2 linked regions of the Homo sapiens genome follow. The protein of the gene in region 1 interacts with the protein of each later gene in a biochemical or structural test. Each region holds a gene or a part of one and is shown in the gene's direction. Other genes may lie near its edges.

The links. Proteins that work in one complex are often made in the same cells at the same time.
Region 2: the proteins of DMTF1 (region 1) and KPNA4 interact in a test that uses a peptide from one of them, tested with the Homo sapiens proteins (one study listed by BioGRID).

What each region holds. Positions count from the first base shown.
Region 1 is NC_000007.14:87,183,453-87,186,952, forward strand, and holds part of DMTF1 (cyclin-D-binding Myb-like transcription factor 1), read left to right. Parts: intron 1-944; coding exon 945-1,173; intron 1,174-2,376; coding exon 2,377-2,528; intron 2,529-3,500. UniProt on the Homo sapiens protein: Transcriptional activator which activates the CDKN2A/ARF locus in response to Ras-Raf signaling, thereby promoting p53/TP53-dependent growth arrest. Binds to the consensus sequence 5'-CCCG[GT]ATGT-3'.
Region 2 is NC_000003.12:160,531,072-160,534,571, reverse strand, and holds part of KPNA4 (importin subunit alpha-3), read left to right. Parts: intron 1-3,014; coding exon 3,015-3,110; intron 3,111-3,500. UniProt on the Homo sapiens protein: Functions in nuclear protein import as an adapter protein for nuclear receptor KPNB1. Binds specifically and directly to substrates containing either a simple or bipartite NLS motif.

The sequences.
Region 1 (3,500 bases):
TGCTGATGAGGCCATGCCATGAAACAGCACAGTCTCAAAGTAGTCCCATCCTTTCACAGCATGCTAGAATAGGAGAGTAGAACTTTGTCTTGAATCCATCCACAGTATTCATAATTGTGCTTGGCATATAATGAAAATTCAATAAACATTTGCTAGATGAATGGAATCCCAAAGCAAGCACAGTCTTTTTGAAATTTTCTAGAGGTTTTCAGCTAGTAATAACAAAATGGAAACAGAGGTAAAGAAGATGAAAAAAAATGGCTTTTTTCCCTTTCTGTTTTTCTGCTCTAGCTCCATAAGAAAAAGACAGAGAGGAACATTTGGGGTTATCTATTAGTGGGTTTATGGGTTGAGAAAACACAGGAATAAAAGTAAATACTTGTATCAGACTTTACTAATATTTCATCACAGTAGCTTGGAGTTGGGATAGTGAGGAAACAAGATGGTAGAAACCTAGTTTTTACTAAAATAGGTTGAGCCCATTGGTGTAATTTCCCTTGTCCCTCATCATTCATTCCTATAAGTAATGGCCTCTTGAACTTACTTTTGCAGAGCAGGGAATCTTAGGTGACAGTAAGAAAAAAAGCATGCCATTTCTTGTCTGTCAGCCATTGACGAAGCTCTTCCCACTTCACTGTTTATAAAGGACTTAGTGTAACTTGAGAATACATTCTTCTTTGTAGTTATGTTTTGGGTGGTTTTTCTTTTCATAATTGGTCAGTGCTTTCCATTAGGATTCTTTATTTTCTTTTCTACTGAGACCCTTACTGGGCTAGTAAAATGAAACTGTCTTAGTGGGTATATATGGTTTTCCACCAGAGGGTCATTCAGAAACAAACTCTTAGTACTATTGCTTACTTCCTATCAGTCCTTGTAAATAGAGGGCTGAATCAGATTTGTAAAAGAAGTTAGCAGTGGTAGTCTGGATGATTTCCTTTTTTCAGGGAAGTGGACAGAAGAAGAAGAAAAGAGACTTGCAGAAGTGGTTCATGAGTTGACAAGCACTGAGCCAGGTGACATAGTCACACAGGGTGTGTCTTGGGCAGCTGTGGCTGAACGAGTCGGTACCCGCTCAGAAAAGCAATGTCGTTCTAAATGGCTCAACTACCTGAATTGGAAACAGAGTGGGGGTACTGAATGGACCAAGGAAGATGAAATCAATCTCATCCTCAGGTTTGTGTCCTGAATCTTGTAATGACAAAAGCAACTTAATTTCTGTGGATGTCTTGATAGACTTTCCTCTTTTGGTTTTCCTGGATGCCTAGTGTCTGAAAAGTATCCTTTCCATAGAGCACTACTGTTTAAGATCTTAAGTATTTCATATTGAGCTCTTTTTTTGTGTTGTGTTTGTTCCTTTTTTTTTTTAGTGGGTTTAGTGCTCATGCAAAGTACCAGATTGAAGGCGTGGAGACTGAAGTCCTCTCTATATCCACAGAACAGGTATGGCACAGGCAGCGGCAGTGTAGCTTTTCCACTGTCCCACCAATGTGCCTCAGTCCTAGCCTAGGGGGAACACGTTTAGGATAAGAGGGCTGTTCAGTCTCCATGCCCTTCAATCCTTGGCTACTGTGCTAAGATTGCCAAGAAGGGGGCCCAGTCTGTAGTTACCTCCACACCTCCAAAGTAGACCAAATCAAACACATCCATTTCATACAAATTCAAAAAAGCTTTAAGATATCATAATCCCAGCTTATTTTTTTAAGTAGCTGGTTTAACCATTAAGATTTATTAACTAAAATGGGCAAAAATACTAGCAAGAAATTATTTAAGACCCTGAAGTAATAGAGACTGTCACCATGGCTACTCCCTACCGAAAATCAAATTGTCACAACAAAGCTAGAAAACGAACAGATTTTTTTAAACCTCAAATTTTGTTGTACTGTTGTGTTGTTTTTTGATTGCAGCTATTGCTTTTGTGTTATTTTGTTTTGGATTTTTTTTTCAACTAGTCATCTTTATAAATAGCTCATTTCTAAATATTTTTGCTTAACAATGGAAACGCTCAGATCCAGGAAGTAAATGACTTAGTAAATGCCACACTATGAAACATTGCATATATACAACTAAATCTGTTCTTATTCTAACCTTTAGCATACTCCTTTTCCTTCACAGTGCCTCATCTGGCTCTAACCATTTATAGTTTAGCCCATTGGTTGTACCTTTAATTAAAAGTGGTTGCTGTTGGTATTTCTTAGCTGTTAGCTCTGAAAGCAGATCTGCACTCCTGGAATCCTTTCCCGTGTAACTTAACAATAGCATCTCATTGGCATAACCTGCCATTCCCTTTATTTGCCAGTGCAATTACCTGTAGTCAGAGGAGGGGTTCTTATAGAGAAATTAATTTAATGTCTAACGATGCTTATTTTGTAACTGTAGGATAGCAGAACTTGATGTAGCTGATGAAAATGACATTAACTGGGATCTGTTAGCTGAGGGATGGAGTAGTGTCCGTTCACCACAATGGCTACGAAGTAAATGGTGGACCATCAAAAGGCAAATTGCAAACCATAAGGATGTTTCGTTCCCTGGTAATGTATTACTTACTTTTTAAGCTCCTCCCCTTTTCTTACCATATTTACTCCTTAGGAGTGAGAGGTTAGAAGTTCTTTGCCCCAGCTAGAGATATCATAGCAGATTTCTACTTACACCACTTCCCTGTTTCTCTCAGTAATTGTTTCCTTCCCCAGAGAAGAGTTAATACTGTTTGTAATTCCTAAAGCCCCTAAAATGAAAATGTACACACTTATTCTTGTTCTTCTACGTAAACTATCAGGAGGAAATAAAATCATGCCACATAACGATTTAATTTTTATGTTTTTAGAGACAGGGTCTAGCTTGGTTGTCCAGGCCGACATGCAGTGGTGTGATCATAGCTCACTGTAACCTTAAACCTGTCGGCTCAAGTGATTCTCCCACCTCAGCCTCCTGAATAGCTCGGACTACAGGCACACACCACCATGTCCAGCTATTTTTTTTCGTAGAGATGAGGTCTTGCCATGTTACCCAGGTTGGTCTCCAACTCCTGGGCTCAAGTGATCTTCCCAGCTTGGCTTCCCAATGTGCTGGGATTACCTGCATGAGCCAGCATAGCTGGCCACTCATAACCTTTCAGTCAACAACAGATGTCATACATAGTATTGGTCTCACAATATTAAAATACTGTATTTTTACTTTTTTTCTATGTTTAGATACACAAATATTTACCATTGTGTTACAGTTGCCTACAGTATTTGGTACAGTAACATGCTGTAAGGGTTTGTAGCCTAGGAGCAATAGACTGTATAGATCATCTAGCCTACGTGTGTAGTAGGCTGTACCATCTAGGTTTGTGTAAGTACACTGTGATGATCCCATGACAGAATCACCTAATGGCTCATTTCTCAGAACATATCCCCATCCTTAAGTGATTGATGACTATATTTTTATTTTGTACAAAGATGTACTTCTGAAAACCTAAGTTTAAGTCAACTTTTGTGAGTTGTATAATTTCAAATATCTTA
Region 2 (3,500 bases), on another chromosome or scaffold:
TAATTTTTGTATTTTTAGTAGAGACAGGGTTTCACCATCTTGGCCAGGCTGGTCTTGAACTCCTGACCTTGTGATCCACCTGCCTCAGCCTCCCAAAGTGCTGGGATTACAGGCGTGAACCACCATACCCTGCCTGTTTTGCACATTTCTATTGTAAAACCTATGCTCTCATATTTTAAGGGAAGAGGCAGAAAAATCTATTACTGAGACCTTTGTATTAATAAATAGGTTGGGGAAGACATGGTTGTATCATAATGCAATTTAGTGGTTGCTTTGTATATTTATGAATATAAGAATAACACCCTATGTTGAGTTTATCAGTAGGAAAGAGACAAGTAAGAAACTGATCCTAGTTACAGAATTTGAAAGTGGAAAAAGTTTGTAGGTCTATCCAATACCTTATCCAGTGCTGCACGAATCTGTTTTATATTTATTAGACTTTTCCAGTATTTGTTTATTCACCTTAAATAACTTAGAACTGATAGGGAAGTTATAAAATTACAGTATTGTGTACCAGAGGTAAAAGAACTTCTTAGAGAGGAATTCTTTATGTAGGCAGAAAAATCTCAGAACCATTCACATTGCAAAATAGCAAATTAATGTTTATAGGAAGAATGATTAAGAAATCGATTATGCTCACCATTGTCAGAGTTGAATATTGGATAGTTTTGGGACAGTTCTTCTCAACATGCAATCTGCAAGAAAATTAAAGCCCAGTGTACCCTAAGAGGTTTTCAAAGTATGATCTGTGGATCACTGGGAGATTCCAAGACAATTTCATGGGTATGCAAGAGCAAACTGATTTTCAAAATAATTCTAAGACTTCATTTGCCTTTTTTTCACTGTGTTAATGTTTACACTGGTATTGCAAAGCAACTGTGAGTAAAATTGCGGGCTCCTTAATGCAAATCAAGACAGTGGCACCAAACTGGTTTTATATTATATTTTGTAAAAATTATATTATTCACCATTATGTAAAGAATAAAAGACATTTCTCTTCTAAAATATCCTCAGTGAAGTGTAAAAAAAATTTTTTAAATTAAATTTTGACCCTTGATCTCATGAAACCTTGTTTGAGAAGGCTGGGTTAAGACTTCTTCGAAGTGGTTTTTTTTTTTTTTTTAAATTTCCACTTAATGCTAAGCACTGTGCCATGTGTTGAGGAAATAGCATGTGGTATAATTCTTTCTCTTTAAGAACTTTATAAGCTAATTGGAAAGGCAAAACTGTATTTTAAAAAATAGGGGGCTGGGCGCGGTGGCTTAACGCCTGTAATCCCAGCAGTTTGGGACGCCGAGGCCAGGGGATCACTTGAGGTCAGGAGTTTGAGACCAGCCTGGCCAGCATGGTGAAACCCCCGTCTCTACTAAAAATATAAAAGTTGGCTGGGTGTAGTGTCACATGCCTGTAATCCCAGCTACTTGGGAGGCTGAGGTGGGAGAATTGCTCGAACCTGGGAAGCAGAGGTTGTAGTGAGCCAAGGTGGCACCACTGCACTCCAGCCTGAGTGACAGACTGAGACCCTGTCTCAAAAAAAATAAGTAGTGATAGCACCAAACGTAGGGCTATGCTGTATAAATCCTCTTGAAATTCAAAGATGGTGTTATGTAAAACATAGAACTTGAAATGGACTTTGAATAGAGTTTGAATACATAGAAGACCGGGCATTTCAAGTGAGGGGTTTAGGATAGGTTCAGTCTTATTTCAGTTGAAATGCTGTGACAGACAACTAACCTATTGTTTAGTTACACAGAATAAGATTAGTTATAAGATGGAGCCAACTTGTGAAGTAGTTTAAAGCTAGGTCAAGGAGTTTACATTGATAAAGGTAGTAAATAAGCAGCCATCACATAGTTTATATAGGGAAATGATTTGGTTAAGCTTTCATAAACATTGCTTTTATATAGTAATACAGGGTGTTCCAGTGGGTAAAGATATGATTAGGCCACACTGAGGACTTATCAGCTAAACCTGTAGTCTCCCACATGTGAAAATAGACACTAGGTTTTGTTTTTATCTTATAAGCTCCATGAGAGCAGTGATGTGTCTGTCTTTTTTACCTCAGATTCTCTAGCATCTCTCTGGCTGTTTTCCTATCAGTTGCTGTGCTTATTCCATTTCTCTTTAGTTGCTGAGATGAAAATGTTGTTGAACTTTTATGGCCTTAAATTTGGTGTGTAAAGTAGAAGGAAGAATTAGGGACTAATATCAGCTATAACATATTTCAGCAGACTACCTGCTTTTGTCATTTGACTCTCTTGTGACCTAGTGTGAATAATTTTGGATATTTTGGTGACCTCTTAATTCCTTTCTTAGCAAGGTAAAAGCTGTGTTGAAGAAATCTGCCCATTTTTTTCTCTGAACTCAAAATTATGTCCAAAAGTAACATGTATTTTTTAAAAATTAGTTTTCTTTTTATAAGTCACAATCAGGACTTTACTGAGGGAATAATAATGTTGTACCATTAAAAGTAGTAAAGTGGCCAGGCTCCGTGGCTCACGCCGGTAATCCCAGCACTTTGGGAGGCCAAGACGGGTGGATCACCTGAAGTCAGGAGTTCAAGACCAGCCTGGCAAACATGAGGAAACTCCGTCTCTACTAAAAATACAAAAATAGCTGGGTGTGGTGGCGCACGCCTGTAATCCCAGCTACTCAGGAGACTGAGGCAGGAGAATCACTGGAACCCAGAAGGCAGAGCTTGCAGTGAGCCAAGACTGTGCCACTGCACTCTAGCCTGGGCAACAGAGTGAGACTCCATCTCAAAAAAAAAAAGGTAGTAAAGTGGTTCATATCTACATTCTTATTTTTCTAATTATTTGTCATCTCTATAAATTTAATTTGTATATCTTTTTATAAATTTAGAGAAAAGGTTGCATTATATAAATTGTTAATTTCAGAGAAGGCACTTGTACCAAATATTCAGATTTATGTTAATATTTGTCAAATATGAATTTATATTTAATCATAATATTGTATGTTATTAAGTTTCACAGGAGTGTTTTTATCTCTTACAGGAAGCTTTTGTCCAGTGATCGAAATCCACCAATTGATGACTTAATAAAATCTGGAATATTGCCCATTTTAGTCCATTGTCTTGAAAGAGATGACAAGTGAGTACATTATTTATTTTTTTTTTTTTAATTTAGAATGTATCCTTTGGAGAAGACAAGACTCTAGTAATTAGTTTGATCTTTAAAGAAAGAAGAAAAGGGCTATGGGATGGAGTTGAAAAGTCAAAGTGAAAAGCAGTGCAAGGTTTGTTAACACCAAGAGATGAAGGTAGTAGCCAAAAAAGGAACTTGAGAATGATAAATTTAACTTTTATGCTTTGAAAATTGGCAAGAACTAGTTTGACCAGATAGGTACTTGAGAAAACTGTTTGGGGAGTAGTATGCAAGTATCTTAAAAAAGATTTCTTACTAAAAATCAGGATGCTGGAGGAGGTTGTATGCTTTTTATACTGAAGAGATGTTTTAAACAGTTGTTGAGGGTTAAAAAAA